5 linked regions of the Homo sapiens genome follow. The protein of the gene in region 5 purifies or fractionates together with the protein of the main gene of each other region. This does not show direct contact. Each region holds a gene or a part of one and is shown on either strand. Other genes may lie near its edges.

What was found.
Region 1: the proteins of ZCCHC7 (region 5) and ZKSCAN1 purify together in Homo sapiens (affinity purification with mass spectrometry; one large-scale study listed by BioGRID and IntAct). This does not show direct contact.
Region 2: the proteins of ZCCHC7 (region 5) and ZNHIT6 purify together in Homo sapiens (affinity purification with mass spectrometry, with the first as the bait; one large-scale study listed by BioGRID). This does not show direct contact.
Region 3: the proteins of ZCCHC7 (region 5) and TENT4A purify together in Homo sapiens (affinity purification with western blotting; one study listed by BioGRID). This does not show direct contact.
Region 4: the proteins of ZCCHC7 (region 5) and CPNE2 purify together in Homo sapiens (affinity purification with mass spectrometry; one large-scale study listed by BioGRID and IntAct). This does not show direct contact.

The regions. Positions count from the first base shown.
Region 1 is NC_000007.14:100,029,002-100,032,873, forward strand, and holds part of ZKSCAN1 (zinc finger protein with KRAB and SCAN domains 1), read left to right. Parts: intron 1-859; coding exon 860-951; intron 952-1,247; coding exon 1,248-1,374; coding exon of another isoform or gene 1,375-1,466; exon of another isoform or gene 1,467-1,849; coding exon of another isoform or gene 1,850-1,854; exon of another isoform or gene 1,855-2,197; intron 2,198-3,872. UniProt on the Homo sapiens protein: May be involved in transcriptional regulation.
Region 2 is NC_000001.11:85,652,845-85,656,716, forward strand, and holds part of ZNHIT6 (box C/D snoRNA protein 1), read right to left. Parts: intron 1,255-3,872; coding exon 1,214-1,254; 3' UTR 1-1,213. UniProt on the Homo sapiens protein: Required for box C/D snoRNAs accumulation involved in snoRNA processing, snoRNA transport to the nucleolus and ribosome biogenesis.
Region 3 is NC_000005.10:6,737,408-6,741,279, reverse strand, and holds part of TENT4A (terminal nucleotidyltransferase 4A), read right to left. Parts: exon of another isoform or gene 3,841-3,872; intron 3,771-3,840; coding exon 3,647-3,770; intron 2,598-3,646; coding exon 2,551-2,597; intron 1,549-2,550; coding exon 1,428-1,548; intron 1-1,427. UniProt on the Homo sapiens protein: Terminal nucleotidyltransferase that catalyzes preferentially the transfer of ATP and GTP on RNA 3' poly(A) tail creating a heterogeneous 3' poly(A) tail leading to mRNAs stabilization by protecting mRNAs from active deadenylation.
Region 4 is NC_000016.10:57,095,583-57,099,454, reverse strand, and holds part of CPNE2 (copine-2), read right to left. Parts: intron 1-3,872.
Region 5 is NC_000009.12:37,123,507-37,127,378, forward strand, and holds part of ZCCHC7 (zinc finger CCHC domain-containing protein 7), read left to right. Parts: intron 1-2,805; 5' UTR 2,806-2,826; coding exon 2,827-3,436; intron 3,437-3,872.

The sequences.
Region 1 (3,872 bases), on a different chromosome or scaffold from region 5:
TAAAAATACAAAATTAGCTGGGCGTGGTGGCTCATGCCTGTAATCCCAGCTACTCTGGAGGCTGAGGCAGGAGAATCACTTGAACCCGGGAGCCGAAAGTTGCGATGAGCTAAGATCGCACCATTGCACTCCAGCCTGGGCAACAAGAGCAAAACTCTGTCTCAAAAAAAAAAAAAAAAAAAAAAAAACTTACCCAGAGCTAAGGAGACCTCCTTACTTCCCTGCCTTTCTGGATATTGCTACTAAAGTGTTTTTTTTGTTGTTGTTTTTCTGGATTTCATTGAGACGGGGTCTCACTCTATCATCCAGGCTGGAGTGCGTGATCATAGCTCACTGCAGCCTCGACCCCTTGAGCTCAAGCAATCCTCCCGCCTCACCTGCCACTAAAGATTTTAAAGCTGTGTTGTGTTTTCCACAAGTGTAGGCATAAATGGGATTCTCATATCCTGGTATCGTTCCTTGGACTGGAGGAAATTAGGAGCCAGACTTGAGCTATGGGCTGAAGGTACCCACTTTTATAGCTGAGAATAGGAACCTGGGTCCCCATCCTGGCTCTGCCACTGGGAATGTGACATTAGGGAAGTCATTTGCAGTCTCAGGGACTCAAGTTTCCCCTTCTTTAAAATAAAAGGGTTGGACCAGGTGATTAGGACCCTTTTATGACTCCTGCTCAAGAGTAGAGGTCTTGGGAAAACTGAGGCCCTGTGTTCTCTCGTTTGTGTTGTCTGGAATTCTGTATTTGGGACCTAAACACTGAACAGTGAACATGCTGGTGCAGGAAGGAACATGCCCCGAGCCCTTCTTTGAGCAAGGCTCAGAGCGGAGCTGATTTACTCACAGACCCTTTCTCCTCCCCCAGCTCTTCCTGCTGCCCACATTCCTGCACCCCCTCATGAGGGTAGTCCCAGAGACCAGGCGATGGCATCTGCACTATTCACAGCGGATTCCCAGGTGAGCTGTGGCCCCTCTGCTCTCCTGAGTCCTCAGTGTCTGCCTCTGTTCCTGAGCTCTCTTCATTATCTCCACAGGCCACTCTGGATGCCCCTGCTCTCAAAGAAGCCCCAACCCTGTCCTCTCCTTTTAGCATCTTTCTACCACAAACTCCCCTCCACCCCCAGGTTCTGGCCACCCTTTTCTTCCCAGCGTCCTGTAGCTTTGCAGCCACCTCTCTTCCTGACTCCAGGTTTGAGCAATGGGATTGTCCCTGAGTTTGGGGGGAAATGACTGTTTGTCTCGTGTTATTTTAGGCAATGGTGAAGATCGAGGACATGGCTGTGTCCCTCATTCTGGAGGAATGGGGATGTCAGAATCTGGCTCGGAGGAATCTCAGTAGGGACAACAGGCAGGAGAATTATGGGAGCGCATTTCCCCAGGGTAAGACGGATGCAGGCTTACTGTCTGATAAGATGGTTTTGTCTCTCTGTGTGTTAGCTGTGGGATCTCTGATGTGTTCAATTGAGTGTTGAGGAGTTAGAGACTACCTATCCCCTTTTGTAGACCAGATGGAAAGTGAGAATGTTTGTGTTCATTTAACTCCAGAAGCATGGTACTGTGACCCTGATTCCAGGTGGGTTTTTTATTGCTAAGTAGTTTTTGCTCTTTAAAATCAGAAATAATTGAGTTCCAAGTCCTCACCTCTTCAGCCACTCAGTTGCCTGGGAGGCAGTTCTGCTCCGTTCCCATGGATTACAATTTAGGTGCCTCTGTCGGGGGAATATCTTTCCTAGCAGAGATGACCAGGCGAACTGATCATCCGTCTAATCCCAACCCATTGTCCCGGTACCACATTCCCGAAACTACCAAGCATCCTTCTGTTGGCTTTCTGTCTTCTTCCATCCTGTGTGATTAGTGTGATTCCAATACACTGCTTTGTGTAATTCCACGAACTTGCACCTGGACTGTCCTTGTGATGAGGATTCCCAGCTTCCAAACTTAATGGTGATTTTCTATGAAGAGCTCTGGGTCCTGGATGTGTAGTAAGAACGAGGAAGTTCAAGAGGCATCAGCCAGATAAGACAAGGTGACACTGTTGGCAGACATTTCCATTTGTCTCTGCTGGATCTTAACCCCTCAGGACAGTGCTGCAAAGAAGCCCTCACGTGAGTACAGCAATAGGGAGGTCCACAGCAAGCTTCTACCTGGAGAGGGCAAAGGGAGTGTGAATAAAGCGTGAACATGAAGGATGTTACTAATGAAACATCAAGTTCTATTTTTGATCAGGCATAAATGGGGCTTATAATTTCTCTTGGTACTTGCTCTTTGTACTAGATGATTTTTTTTTTTTTTTTTTTTTTTTGAGACAGGGTCTTGCTGTTTCCCAGGCTGGCATGCAGTGCTGCGATCACAGCTCACTGCAGCCTCGACCTCTCAGGCTCAAGCAATCCTCCCACCTCAGCCTCCCAAGTAGCTGGGACTACAGGCATGCATCACCATGCCCAGCTAATTTTTACATGTTCTGTAGAGAAGAGGTTTCGCCATGTTGCCTAGGCTGGTCTCAAAACCCTTGGGCTAAAGTGATCCACCTGTCTCCACTTCCTGGAGTTCTGGGATTTAACAGGAGTGAGCCACTGCACCTGGTCTCCAGCATTGTTTTCTGTTTCTTTTTTGTTCTGAGTTATTCTGTGTCAGTCAGTGAAGGGTTTAATTATTTTTACTAATGTCGTAACCACTTTTTTCCACCTACTCCTCTGTTACTTGAGCACTGTCAGCTCTGTGTTCCTCTCCTTGTTGGATAGAAACTATTTCCTGTGTCTGAAGATTCCTGTAGCCTGCCAGGTTCAAAACAAGTTCCTTGACCAGGCACAATGGCTCACACCTGTAATCCCAACACTCGAGGAGGCTGTGGCAAGAGGATCGCTTGAAGCCAGGAGTTCAGGACCAGCATGGGCAATATAGCAAGACCACTGTCTCTACAAAAAAATTTAAAAATTAGCCAGGCGGGGTGGTGCAGGCCTATAGTCCCAGCTACTTGGGAGGCTGAGGCAGGAGGATCACTTGAGCCCAGGAGATCGAGGCTGCAGTGAGCTGTGCTCATGCCACTGTACTCCAGCCTGGCTGACAGAACAAGACCCTGTCTCAAAAACAAAAACAAAACAAAGTTTCTTGTTTGTTAATCATCAGCTTGTTGATAGAAAACTCACAGAATTGGAGAAATATTTACTATTCCTTTCTTTCTGCTAATACCACTAATCATTTTCTATGAAAGACCTGTTCTTTTTTTGAACTTATGAATAATGTTAGAAATGGAACATGATGTTTTAAATGTATACATAAACCTTCCAATTAATTATCAGGTGATCCAGTAGTAGACCTGTGACCTCTGAAGGCTCCTGCTTCTCATCCCTTCCCTTCTGCTGTGATTTGTTGTCTTCCCTCTGCTCATTCCCCTTGTGTCTGTTTCTTCCATCCTCTCCCCATGCTCCCTCTGTTGTCATTTCCCCTTACTCTCCACTCTTTGCCTGCGCTCTCATTTTCCAAATTTTTGTTGTTCCAAAACTAGGACAACAGATCTTCCTGTTGTCCCAGTTTTTCCCCTTGTTTTTCTCCTATTTTATGTCCAATTAATATTGTGAAGTCAGGCCGGGTGCAGTGGCTCATGCCTGTAATCCCATCACTTTGGGAGGCCAGGGCAGGTGGATCACCTGAGGTCAGGAGTTTGAGAGCAGTCTGGCCAACATGGTGAAACCCCGTGTCTACTAAAAAAATACAAAAGTTACCCGGGCGTAGGCCAGGCGTGGTGGCTCACGCCTGTAATCCCAGCACTTTGGGAGGCCGAGGCGGGTGGATCACGAGGTCAGGAGATCGAGACTATCCTGGCTAACATGGTGAAACCCCGTCTACACTAAAAATACAAAAAATTAGCCGGGCGTGGT
Region 2 (3,872 bases), on a different chromosome or scaffold from region 5:
TGCAGTTTCACAGTGGTATAAACTCCAATAAAATTAAGAATTTTTTTTCAGTACATGAGATCAAACTGTATACAGAGCTGCCATAACGTATAAGTTAAGCCATGTATATACATTAATACATACATATATGTTCCAATAACATGTTGAAGATTTCCCAGGTTTTTTTTTCTTTAAGTTATTGCTAGACATATCAAAACACAGTATAAAACTGGTCATCACAACACCCTTCTGCAGTAATGATGAGAGTGGGCTAGGAATGTGATGAAAGGCACAGAATTCATAAGACTTGAGTAAGTAGATCCAAATTTGTTATCACTAATGGCTCAAACAATGTGGAGCCACTGATTTTCTGAAGTGAATATAAGAAACAGTAGTTAATAGTATTTATCCAGGCTTCTAGTATAAGACATTGTACTAGGAGTTTCTCAAGTAGAAAACTTGTCTCACAAGGGTAAGTTACATAAAAACTCCAAAGAAGAAAGGGCAACTGATAGAAGATTAGTTCTCCTGTGGCTAGACGGTGCGTTGTACAGCCTTTCCGTTTAGTGAGGTTCTACTAAAGGGAATGCCAACTTTGTGGTTGACATGGGTGATCCTTGGGTTTCGTCACGCATGAAATTAACAAATAAAAAATGTTCAAGGCCAGGTGTGGTGGCTGATGCCTGTAATCCCAATGCTTTGGAGTCTGAGGTGGAAGGATTGCTTGAGGCCACAAATTTGAGACCAGCCTGGGCGAAAGAGCGCAACCCTGTCTCTACCAAAAAAAAACAACAACAAAAAACTTAGCTGAGTGTGGTGGTACCAGCCTGTTGGGAGGCTGCAGTGAGAGGACCATTCGAGCCCAGGAATTTGAGGAAGCTATGCTCATACCACTTGCACTCCAAGACCCCATCTCAAAAAAAGAAAGAAAAAAGAAAAAAAAAGTTTTCAGTTTATGGAATTAAGCAATTAAGCATATTAAAAAGCCAGGGCCTAATAAGTACTATGCTGATCAAGTGCAAAGGAGAGTTCTTAATATGAATAAATGGGTCTTACAAGTCAATTAATTCAAGAGGTTATAAAATACATTTTTTAAAAGAGTTAAGCTTATTTTTCATACAAAGAAAAAATTCCAATCACCCATTGACAATACCCCAATCAGCCAACAGCCCATCAATGCAGAGTCTGCTGCAGTTGTCTGGAAGTTTTCACTTTCTTCTTCCAGAAAAAATGCTCAATTTTCATTGCCAACGTTCTTGGTAGATTCACTCTTCACTAGAAAAAAATAAGTAAACATACAGTCAAGTGTTTATATTTTTCTGTTTAGGTTGCTCTGTCCCTCTTCTCTCCCTCCTTCTGATGTACAGCAAAAGCACTGCTCACAGGGACACACAAACCGCGTCATGTCCCAGGCAGCTAGGATATACAATTCTGGCCACAATAAATAGAGAAATGATGTCTGAAAGTGGCAATTATATTTTGTGAGGTAACATCCTTCCTGACTCTGTGGAAGACTTAGGAATGGTCACTTCACAATGTGGTTATGATCCATATTCATGCCACTGAATAGATCACTATTATCCTGGCCAGCCACTTGTGGTTAGAATAAATTTTTTCCATGATTTTTTTTTAAACTTAATTGAGGGTCAGTATATGTTGAGTGAATGTGGAGTGACAGAAGACTAGCTAATCGCCATCTCCTTCCTTTCACAGGAAAGAAGAATAGAAATGGAGCTCCTCTGACACCCCTGTCTTGCTTAGAGCAAGCAAGACTAACTATGACTCACTCACTAAACTGAGAGTTCCTGGAGGACAGAAACTCGACCTTTCTTCTCTGTATCTATCCTCACAATTTAGAGTATGTTTGCTGAATCAATGTAACTGCAAATCATTCTGCCTTTTAGTGTTTTTTCCCTAAATCTGCAAAATGGGAACCGGAGTAAGTGTTCTATTTCATGGTCTTGTGAAGCTAAAAGGAAATAATAGGTAGTAACTCTTTAAAAATTGTCATGCTAAAATATAGGTTATTTTGAGGCTTATAGCTGTTATCTCCACTGAGTAGATAAGAAAAATAAAGCTCAGAGAGGCAGAGCAAATGCTCAAGGGACCACAGCTTATAAAAGCTGATGCTAGAAGCACACACCTGGAACTGCCTCATATTCCAACTGACAAGTTCCCTGGGGTTTGCTGTTGTACCTAGACTTCAGATTGTACCAGCAACCACAATGGTGTTTACTGAGCCCTTTCTAAGAGTAAGGCACTGAAATAAGTTCCATCCAAGATATCATCCCAATCTTTGTGAAATTTTATGAACTTTAGCAGTCCATCCAGTGCCTCCATGATATTAAAAGTTTTTTTCCTTCTCTGGCTGTCTCTGTACTTCAGGTAAACTCTATTTTAGCATCTATTGTATAATAAGTTTTACATGCGTGTTCCAGTGCCAAAAATCCTCCTCTCTCTCCCTGCAAAAGGAAAAGAAAGAAAAGAGAAGTAAGGAAGAATGAGGAAAGGTGAGCGAGGGAGAATGGATGAAAGATTTACTGGCCCAATAAGAGACTGATATATGAGTAGCTGCTATGCCAGGTATTTTCACTAATTCCAGTAATCAATTTTGGGTTGGATTCCTTCTCTAAAGGCTGAGGCATTTTCTAATCTTGAGTTACACTAGAACATCAAAAAGTTTATTTTGCTGACATTTCTAAATTAATAAAGATTTTTAGCAGTATGGGACATTTTCCCCTTTCTTTGCCTATTGAAGGTGCCCAGTTTTCTTCTTTGAATAGGGTTCCATTCTTTTTTCCTTAGATTGAAATGCAGCATGCTTTTCTCCCTCATCTAAATCTGCTAGTCTAATAACAGCCTGTGAAGCAAGTTACACCATTCTGAGCACTTCCCACTGGACTGATATAAGGTAGGTAATCAGCACTTAGCATCTCCAATCTAGTGGAGTATCTAAATAGCTCTATCTTTTCCAGTTAACCTTTTCCATTACTGAAAAGCAACAAACAAACAAAATCTTGGCTACTGCTGATTAATATAGGCAGACTCAAATAATTATGGCAATCTACAATCATAACAAATATTAGAACAACCATCAGGTGTGGGAACTACTGAATCCCAGACCAGAAACACATGTACCCCCAAATTAGGAAAGAGACAACTTGTACTATAAACTCAGGATCAAAATCCAACTTTTTTACCTCCAGAGAGGGAAGGAATTTCAAGGCTTTCCAAAGAAAATGCCCTCTTCTTACATAATCCCCTTCCCTCATCAAGGTATCACCCTGCAAAATATCTGATGCTGTGAGAATGTATAAAGAAACAGACACCTTGAAGTACTTACAGAAAGAAATGCATGTACAGGAAGACCTGGGCATTACTTTTAAGGTGTGTGTACTTACGATGTGACAAAACTGGTATGGTTTTAAAATCCTGTCAGATACTTTTAGTTCTTTGCTAACACAGTTCTAAATAATCCTCTGTACTAAAAGCATGAGTCATTTGTGTTCCTGTAAATAAGTCAAACATCATATATCCACCAGAAAAATAGCAAATTTTACTCAATAAGGCTCCCAGTACGCTAGTAAAGTAGTCTTTTCTTATTGCTTCATTACAGGAAGCCTTACTTGAATGTACATTCCTAAACAAGGTGAAAGGAGAGCTGTGTGTGCTGTTTATTTATACAGAAGATGTTTGCCCTAGCTACTAACCTACATTACTAAACAACTTTTCCCAAAACCAACATTTGAGAGAGCACTGTGAATTTATTAAGAAAAAAGCAACATAATACAAAGCTTAAACAAAGTGAAACTGGCCATTTAAAACTAAAATTCCTAATTTATTCTGAGAAAAAAATTCTCAAATTGTGAAAAATATTAATGTCAAGAATAAAA
Region 3 (3,872 bases), on a different chromosome or scaffold from region 5:
CATGACTGGCCGGCTGCACAGTGCTCCCCAGAAATGAGCAGTGGCAGGCTCCAGGCTCTCCCTACAGTCTACACTGGCCCTCAGGTAACAGAGGAAAAGATACTTAGTAGCCAATATGCGACAGTAACGAGGTCACTGGGACTAAGCAGTTACTGTAACTGCTCAACCTACTGTGTGGCCTCAGGACAGCCGCGCCTTAGTTCCTCTACTCCAAAGGTGGTCGCCTGGTCAGGATTCCCACCCACCTCCCCGCTGCCCCTTGGCACACACAGAGGAGCAGCAGACAACAGCGGCCTGGACTATGCCGCTGACCCACCTTGGGCTAATGACCTCACCTCTCCGCATCTCAGTTTCCTCACCTGTAAAATGTGAACAGCAACAGCATCTGCTGATGAGAGTGGCTGGGAGAGCTAAGTGCAATAAGGCCCGTAAGCATTTGAGAAAGTGGCCGGCCAGGGCTTGTCTCGTGCTAATGAGAAGAGCCAACAGCCCCTTCTGGAACCTGGGCCTGGAGGGAACCTCTGGTGCTGCCTGCTCGCTCTGGTCCACATGACAGTGACATGAGCATGTGCACTTCGTTAACTCTCACCAAGAGGTGCACCTGGTACATGTGCACTTTTCAGTGCATATATCATGTTTTAAAACTTGCCCCCAGCCTCAATCAAAAGCACCTGACAATGAGAAACATGTGAATGCCCCCTCCCCTATCACCACACAGGCAGGAGGAAGCTCCTGCCTTAACTTACATTCTGCTAAACACTATAAGGATGTGAATCACACACAAGTTGACACACAAATTTAAAAATGAAATGCTAGCCGGTCGCACAGGTGAGCTAAGAACTGTCATACAACAGGCAAGTACCTCATAGTCCCTGGGGGGCTTATAATCTTGAACTGACATAAACCTTAGCAAGTACACACCAGAAACAGTCTCATCTTCAAACTTCCCCCAAAGATAAAAGGCTTTTCATATATGTATATTTTTTGGAACCACGAAAGGAACAGCTAAGTTGTTCCTCTTTAACATAACATAGCAAATGGTAATCATAAAAACCATGGTTTAATCATTGAGCCACACTCTCCATAATGGGCAGCACCTGAATGTCAGTGTCCGGTTTCAGATGACTCTCCTTTCCTATTCATCCTAACACAAGTAGACACAATCATATATTTTCATTCCAAGAACAGTTTAATGGGCTCACAAGTCCCAAAAGTTCAGACTGTCACTAAACATGTTCTCAGTTGGTGATCACGACTATGAAACAAAAACATAAAACACATGTCTATACCAGAAGCAGATTAATCTTCAAAACTGTAGCCAATAACTGTGTAAAATACCACAAGCTCGTGACGCAGGCGTATCCTGTGACCACCTGGGATGTGACAAGGCTCCTGCCCGGTCAGAGGGGCCAAAGCCAGGCACTCACCGTAGCCTTGTCAAGGACTTTGATGGAACACGGCTCAGCCACGTTGTGCTTCCGCAGGGCTTGCTCCAGCAGCTGTAAAGGAGGACGCTCCCATTTCCCGAAGACCACCAGGTCTATGTCGCTGACAGAAGAAAACGCACGTCAGCCACTGCTCCCCTCGCCACAGCCTACACACTCGTGTGGGGAGGATAAGCACCAAGGCACATGTGCCTGTGTCTCCCACAAAGGCCAAGACACAATCCCACTAGCCTATGGCCCCTAAGGAGGTGAAGTGCAGTTCATGAACTACAGCAAGTCCTCGCTGAACTTAAGGGAAGACTTCCATATTTGTAGCATAAGATGGAAAGCAAGAAGGTTAAATCATTCTCCCAACAGCACTAGGTATGTGAGGGGATTCAAATGAAAATGCCTGCCCCCAAACCAGGCTGAGGCCCCGCTCTCCCAGCACCTACTCCGGCACTGCCTACGCTGGATCACTCCTGCGGACCCAGAGATTCCTGGATACCCAAACCTGTTCAATTACCCACTGGCCCTGCTAATGTCAACCCCCAAATCCTGAGATTATAGCCTCTTCGGCCTCCAAATGCTAACTAGCAGTGGGTTAATAGAAGGTAAGCTTTTAATGAGACAGTGCACAGGAAATTTATTTGGCTATCAAGAATCCTTAATGAGAAAATACTAGTTTGTATTTTAGAATGCAAACTTGTTTGACATTTTCCTATCAGGTAAAAATACTTAGAAAATACTATTTAAAGAGAATTTTGCTTGAATCTTCATCAAAACATAAGATCAATTTTTCAAACACATGTCCTAAAATATCAGCAGAATGTCTTCTATTGCGTTTACTTCCCACAGTCCTCCCACCTGTCTTCTTCATATTTCCAGCATGAAGCATTTTTGCACCCCAACAAATTAAGTGTGAGAGGAAAAATGCAAAGCAATGAATTCATCATAACACTAAATTAAATCTTTCTGCCAATTTCCCTCTGTAACCACAGTCTTTTCCTTTAGCTGGCATTTCTCGCCTTAGACTCAATTACAAAGAATCTATTTGTAGCCCTTAATATTGCATAGACACCATCCCAGCCCCCCACTAGCCCATGCCATGCAGTCTGGTACTCACCTAGTTGGAAGATAAAGACCTGTACTAAAGCTGCCAAATATCTGTACCTGAAAGAAAGAGTGGTTGCCTTAAAATGTATACCACAAACCAAGCAGTCACACTACCATTATTTCTTACTAAAAGAAAGCCCTCACTATACCCTTGGGTAAAAAATAAAACTACCTTGGAAACTGATGGAGGGGACCGTATAACAATCAACCAGAAAATTCCCTTTAAGTTAAAGACATGCCCAAAAAAGGAATGTTTAAAAACTCAAAATTAAGAGGTGAAACAAGTTTTGTCCTCACCCTATAACCCTTCAAAGCTGAGGACTTTTCAGAGCTAGCTTCAAACCCTTCAACCTCTTCTTAAACCCACAGCTAAGGCACTGGGGCAGGGCTTTGTCCTAGGACTCTGAAGTTTAAAGCCAAAAATCTGTATCATTTTAAAAGAGGCGCAGAAAACTGGGTTGCCCTTGCCCACCAAGAGCACACATGCCCCTCACAGCTGGGGCACGGCCAGCCCTGCTGGTCCACTGAGCCCAGTCAGCAGTAGGGAAGGCTGCTGAATAGAGCCGGCCAGGGGCAGGCTTCACGCCACCTGCACCAAGCATTCCAGAAGGCCCCACTCCACATGTCAAAAAACACTTGTTCCTTCACTGCAAGAGTGGTGTGTGATGAGGGAACACTTCCAAGTTTTACAAAAATGAGCACATTATATGCTACTATGTGTGGTGGTGGGGAAGCAGGGGTGGGTGACAGGGTGAAATTTCTAAATTTTAAGGTGAACTTAAGAGAAACAATCACACCATTCTCCCCCTTCCAAAAAAAAAAAAAAAAAACCCAACAAATCCCTCAGCCGATGGTCTTCGCACTTGAGTGCGCGCCAGCATCACGAAGATGTGCGGCCACCGCAGGTGTCTAAGACAGCAGGTGCAGGTGCGCCGGGGGCCATGCATTCCAGGCAACGGAGGCCTTCTCAAAGCACACTTGGAGAACTGCTGCCTCGGGCCAACGAGAAAAGGTCTGTGTGGATCTAGCCGACACATCATCATCACAGGGTATTTAAATTTACTCGCACGTGACGTGCGACACAGAACTCCAAAGAACATACTCACATCAGCCGTCGGCCAAAGGTCTTTCACCACAGTTTCGATCCGTTTCACCACCTCTCTTCTCATAGCTGCTTCTTCAGGACAAGGGGACATGAAGTTATAAAAGTCAATTATTTCCTCATGTAGTCTAATGGACAAAAAAGAAAACATACTAGAGTTACAATGAAATGTCACCACATTTTCTGTTCTGTTCTTACATCAGGATGACGCTCAAACATATTTCTGGCCA
Region 4 (3,872 bases), on a different chromosome or scaffold from region 5:
AACGAAAACACTCACGTATGTTCACCCAAAGATACACACAGGAATGTTCATGGCAGTGCTAATCCAAATAATCCCAACTGGAACTCCCCACCCAAACCCCCATGATTGGAAGAAGGGAGACATAACTGGTGAATGAACACACAGCAGACCACATACAGCCAACTTGAAGGAAGAACACAGGTAGCAATAACACGGATGGGTCTCACACGTGCTGTGTGAAGGGGGCCAGAGAGAAAGGAGTATGTCATCCTATATGATTTCACTTAGGTGCCCTTAAACATGGACAAAACAAATCTATGCTGCTGGAAGTCAGGATAGCAGTAGGACACGTGGACGGGTGTTACTGACAAGAAGGGGACACCGGGGGCTTTGGTGCTGGTCGTGTCTGTTTCTGATCTGGGTTCTGGTGACCCAGATATGTTGGTTTGTGAACAGTCATTGACTGGTCCATGTAGAATGTCTGCTCTATTTCATGTTACACTTCAATGTGGTAAAACAAAAAACAAAAAACACCAAAACCAATAATCCAGGGACTCCTCTACAAAGCCCTTCCTATTTCCCTGGTCCTTGAGAGGGAATCACTTACAATATCAGCATACTGTAACCATTGGCTTAGAAGCGTCGCCCTCACTGGAGCTTAAAGATGGAACCAAACCCTGTTTCCATTTCGTTGCTCCCAACACCCAGAGGCACAGAATGGAAGCTCGACACAAGTTTGTTGAAAATGAGGAAGAGTGAAAAGGTGAGAGGAAGAGGAACCATAACATCTTGGAATTGTAGAGGCCCGGGACTAGAGGTTCACAGAATTCCAGAATTTGGGAATTCTGGGATTTCAGAGTCATGAGTTCTTTGAGTCTCAGAGCTAAAAGACTTTAGAGTTTATCTGGCCCCACTTTCCAGCCACACAGGAACCCTGGCCACAGCCTGGCTGCCCCAACATCCTGCATCCTGGTTCTGGTGGGCAGGGTCCAGCCACAAGCCTTATTCTCTGGGGCCCTTGCCGCATGCCCATTGCTGCACCAGCTCCTGCCAGGCGACAGGCAGCCCCCGGGGAGCAGGCTGGCACTCCTGACCAGGTGGGGGCGGCACCTTGACACAAATCATTTCTGCACCGAGGCTACGGCACCGGCTGCTGTGCTCCAAAGACACCACACTCCAACAGGCAGCCAGGCCATTACGGGGATAAATACAGATGCAGACAGCATGGCGAGGAGGCTGCAGCAGGGGTTGGCCCTGAGGCCCCCCTGGGGACCCCCAGCTTCCACCAGACCACATTCAGAGGGAGGTCATTCTCTGTAGTGCCCGCTTAATCACTAAGCTCTGGCTCTTAGGGGAGGTGGCTTCCCTTGGGACACCCCCACCCCCACCCTCCCAGGCCCCAGGTTCAGCTCATCCTGCACTGGAAGGTTTGTGTCACTTATAGGGGCTGACCTAGCAGGCTGAGAGGCAGCCTCCACTGTACTTCCTGTGAGTCTAGGGACTGGGTTTTGTCCTCTCCTGCCACTCCTCCCTCCTGGGCCTCAGCTCCTTCCCCTCCGGCCTCCCAGGAAGCTCCACATGGGGATAGGCACGGAGTGCTGTGGCTCTCCGGAGACTCTGAGTACTTAGGGGACCTTGGGAGTGGATCTGGCCAGGCTCAGAGGGCAGGGGACTCCCATGGAGGAGGGAATGGGGAAAGTTGTACGTCTGAGAGAAGGTGGATTTGCCTAGGACTGAAAGACTGGGGGCTGGGGAGGTGGAGGATGTGAGGTCCCCTGGGTGGGACGTCACCTGCTGCCACTGCCTGCCCACCCAAGGGACTGAGGTGTGCTGGAGAAAGTCACCCATTCCCTATGCAACCTGGGCCATGTGTCCTAACCTCTCTAGCCTCAGTTTCTTCATACAGGAAATGGAGCTGCTGCTAACTAGAGCTGTCCCCACTACTTTCTTCATGATGTTCTTAAGGCAGCAGTGAAAAGCTGGTACACTGAAGAGGGTTGTGCACAGATGTAATCCCTCTTTCACTTGGGACTTTGGGTCTCCACCTTCCAGGAGAGCTTCCCTCACCATGCAGCCATCCATTTGGTTGTTCAACAGATGTTTCTTAAGCAGTTCCTCTGGACCAGGGACTTTGCTGTGTGCTGGAGGGGCAACCATGATCAAGACACACTCAGGCTCTGGGCATAGGAGTTCGGGATGGAGTTGGGGGAACAGAGAGGTGAGCAAATGACAAGGGCAGGAAATCTCAGAGAGTGGAAAATGTCATAAAGAGAATAAAGCAGGGTGAAGTGATTGTGATAGGGCAGTGTGGAGGAGGCCACATTTGAGCTGGGATGTTAATAGACCAGGAGCCCCAGGAGAGCAAGGCATTGGTCTCTCTCGTTCATGGCTGTATCCCAGCCATAGCTGGTGCCCAGCAGGTACTCAGTGAATATTTTTGAATGAATGAATGAATGGGCTCCTGAACCAAGCTAGGCATGTCCCCACCACAGGGCCTTTGCATGCGCTGTTTCCTCTACCTGTTCCCCAGCATGTGTAAAGGCCCTGTGGTGTGGACATGCCTAGTGTGGTTCAGAAGCCCATTCTCCCTACAACTCTACTGTATCCCTGCAGGCTTTTGTGTCTTATCAGGAGCTGAGGATATCTGGCCTGCCTGATGTGCCCTGGCTGTCCCCTCTCTAAAACACAGGAGGGAATATGCCCAACTCCCAGCAGACAACTCCTGCAATCCCTCTTTCCTTTGGTTGGACCCCAAGTCTTTTTTTTTTTTTTTTTTTGAGACATGGTCTCACTGTTTCACCGAGGTTGGAGTACAGTGGCACAATCATGGCTCACTGCAGCCTCGACCTCCTGGGCTCAAGCAATCCTCCCACCTCAGTCTCCCAAGTAGTTGGGACTACAGGCATGCACCACAACACCCAGCTAATTTTGTTTATTTTTTATTTTGGTAAAGACGGGTTTTTGCCATGTTGCCCAGGCTGGTCTTGAACTCCTGGGCTCAAGTGGTCTGACTATCTTGGCCTCCCTCAGTACTGGGATTACAGGTGTGAGCCACCACGCCCGGCTCTCCCATCAGTCTTTCAGAGACATGCCCAACCTGAGAAAAGTGTATTGTAAGAGTGCAGTGAATGCTGGGAGCTGAGCTACTGGGTTTCAAACTCTGGTTGGCCATGGGCTAGTTGAGCACCACACACTGGATGGCTTAGATTCTCTCACAGTTCTGTAGGCTACAAGTTTGAAATCCAGCTGTCAGCAAGGCCATGCTCCTTCCAGCACTCAGTATGGTAAGCCAGAGATCCCTCCAGAGACTCAAGAGGGCAAGCTCGTAATTCTCCCAGGATCCATCACTCAACATCACAGACTCATTTAACAGGAGGCTGCAAAGAGGGGCAGGTGCAGTCATTCCTCACACAAGGATTTACTGAGCACCTACAATGTGCCAGGCACTGTTCTAAGTGCTGGGACATGGCCCTAAACAAGACAGACACTGTTTGCTCTTGCCTTTTTGTGGATCTGACACCCTTTGGGGAGGGAGGCAGATAAGCTGGTGCACCAATGAGTAAAGAAGATGGTTTTAAAGAGTGGCAAATGCCCCAAGAAAAATACAACCAGGAGATGCAGCAGTGAGGAGGGATGGTGACACAATCTCACTAGTCAGTCTCATTGCAGACCTCAGAGCAAGTGTGGCCAGATAAGTAAGAAATGTTCCATGGTCGGGCACAGTGGCTCATGCCTATAATCCCAGCACTTTGGGAGACCGAGGTGGGTGGATCACCTGAGGCCAGGAGTTCAAGGCCAGCCTAACCAACATAGCAAAACCCCGTCTCTACTAGAAATACAAAAATTAGCTAGGTGTGCACCTGTGATCCCAGTTACTTGGGAGGCTAAGGCAC
Region 5 (3,872 bases):
GGAAGTCAGTTTTTATTATGGTTCTGTAGTTTATTTTTGGCATACATTCACAGGTGTGCCTATGGCTCTATTCTTAATCCCTTTCCTTTGGGATGGCTGCAAGAGTAGTACAAACTTGTAACTTTGTAATTTGGCTTTTTAATTTTTTCTGTGCTGCACTGGAATTATGTTTTGTCTTAAGTCCACACTGGATCCTCAGGATGGATCCAGTGAGGATTTTGAAAGAAGCATAATTCCTTTGACTTCTTTTAGAATTAATTTACCTATTAAATAAAAAGGAAAGGATTCATCTTTTATTCGAATTCCTCTGAGGCTAACAATTCAATATAAACTGATGAATGCTGTGAGCATTATTCAGACAATCACATTCAATTTGTGTGACAGTAACAGCATAGCCACCTGAAGGACAGTGCAACAAGGGCACAGGTATATGATACCCTTTAGAAGAAAAGCATTACAGGTGGGTTTATTTGTTTCTGGAAAACAAACAACTCCAGTAGGAATGTAGTACATTTTTGGCTCTTGTCCATTTGGTTTTTGGGATTAAGGTGGTTCTATTACCAGAACTACCACCACAACACCCTGGTATTTTTGGGCAGAAATTTGGGACACTAAGAAAACAACTATTTTTTATTTTATGTGTATAGCTGTTAGTGGAAGAAAGAATAAATAGGCATCATTATTGCTCTTTAGGCTGTCCCTGATTTTGGACACACACTTATTTTTTCAGGGCTCTCATTTTAATCAGTAGTCCATCAGTACCTAATGGAAACATCTACTGTGTAGAGTTTTGGTTGCTGATGCTAGAATTTAAGACTTTGGAGTAGTCGAAAGACAACAGAGAAATTCATCTCATAATTTTTGTATTTTAAGCACATACTAGATTTATCAGGGCTGAAGAACAAATGCCCGATGGTGTAGTTCATTTATTCATTTATGAATTCAGCAAACGTTTGTAGCTGACCCCGAAAATACCAGTTACCCTGTTTGGCTTTGGTGATTCATTGTTTAGCAGAGTGCATATAGTTCCTGCCCTCCTGGGATTTGTGATCTGCGTTTCTTGGAAATTTATATTGAATAAGTAATTATAAATGTGATGAGTGTTTTGACATGTAAAGTACTTATGGAAGCCCATAAAAGGGGCTCTTAATTTAGCCTGGTTGCAAGTGATTTTGAGCTGAGTTTAAAAGATGAAGGCTGAGGAGGATTTAATATGCTCACAGTAGAAAGTAAAGTGTTTCACTTTACACATTTATTCCCAAAGCTGGGAGTTTTGTCTCAATATTGGGTCATTATTAAGTTTGTATTTATACATTATAAATATACATTGTAAAAATATACATTTTTGTAACTAGTACAGAGTTTTTAGACAGTCTGCTCTGTTGCCCAGGGTGAAGTGCAGTGGCATGATCTCGACTCACTGCAGCCTGTGCCTCCCAGGTTCAAGCTATTCTTGTGCCTCCACCTCCTGAGTAGCTGGGATTATAGGCGCACACCACCACACCCAGCTGATTTCTTTATTTTTAGCAGATATGTAGTTTCACCATCTTGGCTAGGCTGGTCTCGAACTCCTGACTCAAGTGATCCACCCGCCTTGGCCTCCCAAAGTCCTGGGATTACAGGCGTGAGCCACTGCACTGGCCCACCCTTGTTTTATTTTTGAGTTGGGTTCTTGCTTTGTCACCCAGGCTGGAGTACAATGGTATGAGCATAGCTCACTGTAACTTTGAACTCCTGAGCTCAAGCGGTTCTCCCACCTCAACCTCCTGAGTAGTAGCTGGGACTACAGGTTTGCACTGCCATGCCTGGCTAAGTTTTTAGTTTTAATTTTTATGGAGATGGGGTCTTACTGTGTTGCCCAGGCTGTTCTCAAACTTCTAACCTCAACGTGATCCTCCTGCCTTGGCCTCCCAAAGTGTTGGGATTACAGGCATGAGCCACTGCCAGCTCAGGCATTTTTATTTATTCTTTTGGCCAATGATCAGAGGGCCGTGCGATTAATTTGTTAATTGAGAATATACATTTACACCCAAACAGTAAACAAAATTGTTTCCTGTTATAGATTTTAGTCATAATTGAAGTAATATTCCTGTATATGCTTGAAAATATGAGCTATAGAACCAGAACCAAGGAAAAGATGAAGAATGGATAGGATAGTGAGAGCTGCTTTAAGTTTTGTTTTAACATTTTGGAAAGCAAGGGTTTTGTATCCTGCGGTAGATCTCAATTTGTTTTTCGTTTACAATATACCTGTGAAATCTTACATATCATGTGCTGCATAATAGCATTTTGGTTAAAGACAGACAGTGTGACTGTGGTCCCATAGGATTTGTATACGTTTTTGCTATATCTTTTGTATGTTTAGATACCCAAATACCATTGTGTTACAGTTACTTACAGTATTTGGCACCGTTACATGCTGTATTGGTTTGTATCCTAGGAGCAATAGACCATACCATGTAGCCTAGTTGTGTAGTTGACTACACCATCTAGTTTGTGAAAATCATCCTATGAAGTTTGCACGATGAAATCACAGAACAAAGCATTTCTTAGAGTGTTGACTGTGTTTCCATCAATAACTATAACTCAATTTGTCAGTAGTAATTCTCGTTGGGGAGTGGTGGGACTTACAGGAGTGGGTCCTAACAGGACTTAGAAATCCTTGGAAAAAAAGGTATTTTAATATGTCTGAGAATAGTGATGGCCTTCATATTAGCAGTTGTCACTGACAGGTGATATTGTTACTTAAACTGGCATGATCTGAACTTTTAAAGTATATTCTGTGTACAACTTTCTCTTTTGCAGCTTCAAGGTTACTGACTTTTTATGATGTTTGGTGGCTATGAGACTATAGAAGCATACGAAGATGATCTTTATCGAGATGAGTCATCTAGTGAACTGAGTGTTGATAGTGAGGTGGAATTTCAACTCTATAGCCAAATTCATTATGCCCAAGATCTTGATGATGTCATCAGGGAGGAAGAGCATGAAGAAAAGAACTCTGGGAATTCGGAATCTTCGAGTAGTAAACCAAATCAGAAGAAGCTAATCGTCCTTTCAGATAGTGAGGTCATCCAGCTGTCAGATGGGTCAGAGGTCATCACTTTGTCTGATGAAGACAGTATTTATAGATGTAAAGGAAAGAATGTTAGAGTTCAAGCACAAGAAAATGCCCATGGTCTTTCTTCTTCTCTTCAATCTAATGAGCTGGTTGATAAGAAATGCAAGAGTGATATTGAGAAGCCTAAATCTGAAGAGAGATCAGGTGTAATCCGAGAGGTCATGATTATAGAGGTCAGTTCAAGTGAAGAGGAAGAGAGCACCATTTCAGAAGGTGATAATGTGGAAAGCTGGATGCTACTGGGATGTGAAGTAGATGATAAAGATGATGATATCCTTCTCAACCTTGTGGGATGTGAAAACTCTGTTACTGAAGGTTAGTATCATATTGGCCATTTTGAAAGTAGTATCATCTTTCATAAGGAGGACTGCTTTTCCTAGAGAAAAGACCAATAGGGTCTACTCCGTTTAATTCCTCACTTTTTGGTCTTGTTTTTTGGTTTGTTTCTCATGCGACTCTCTTACCAGTGGCTACTCTAATGGTGGTTTGTCTGAACGTCAGAAAGAGTATGTCAGAATACCAAAGACACTCTGCTTCTGCTGTAAGCAGATTCATAGCTGCTTCTTCCTGTTTGGCTAGAGCCAGTTCTGGACCTGAAATCTTACTTCCCCCCTCTCTCTCTGCTTGGTACCACAGGTGAGTACTCCATCCACCTCTGGCATTAGCCCTGTGCACTCATTCAGCCAACTCTGTTGGGACTGTCTCTTCCTATGGGATTTGCTTACCCAGGAGTTAGATGGCAAGCATAGGG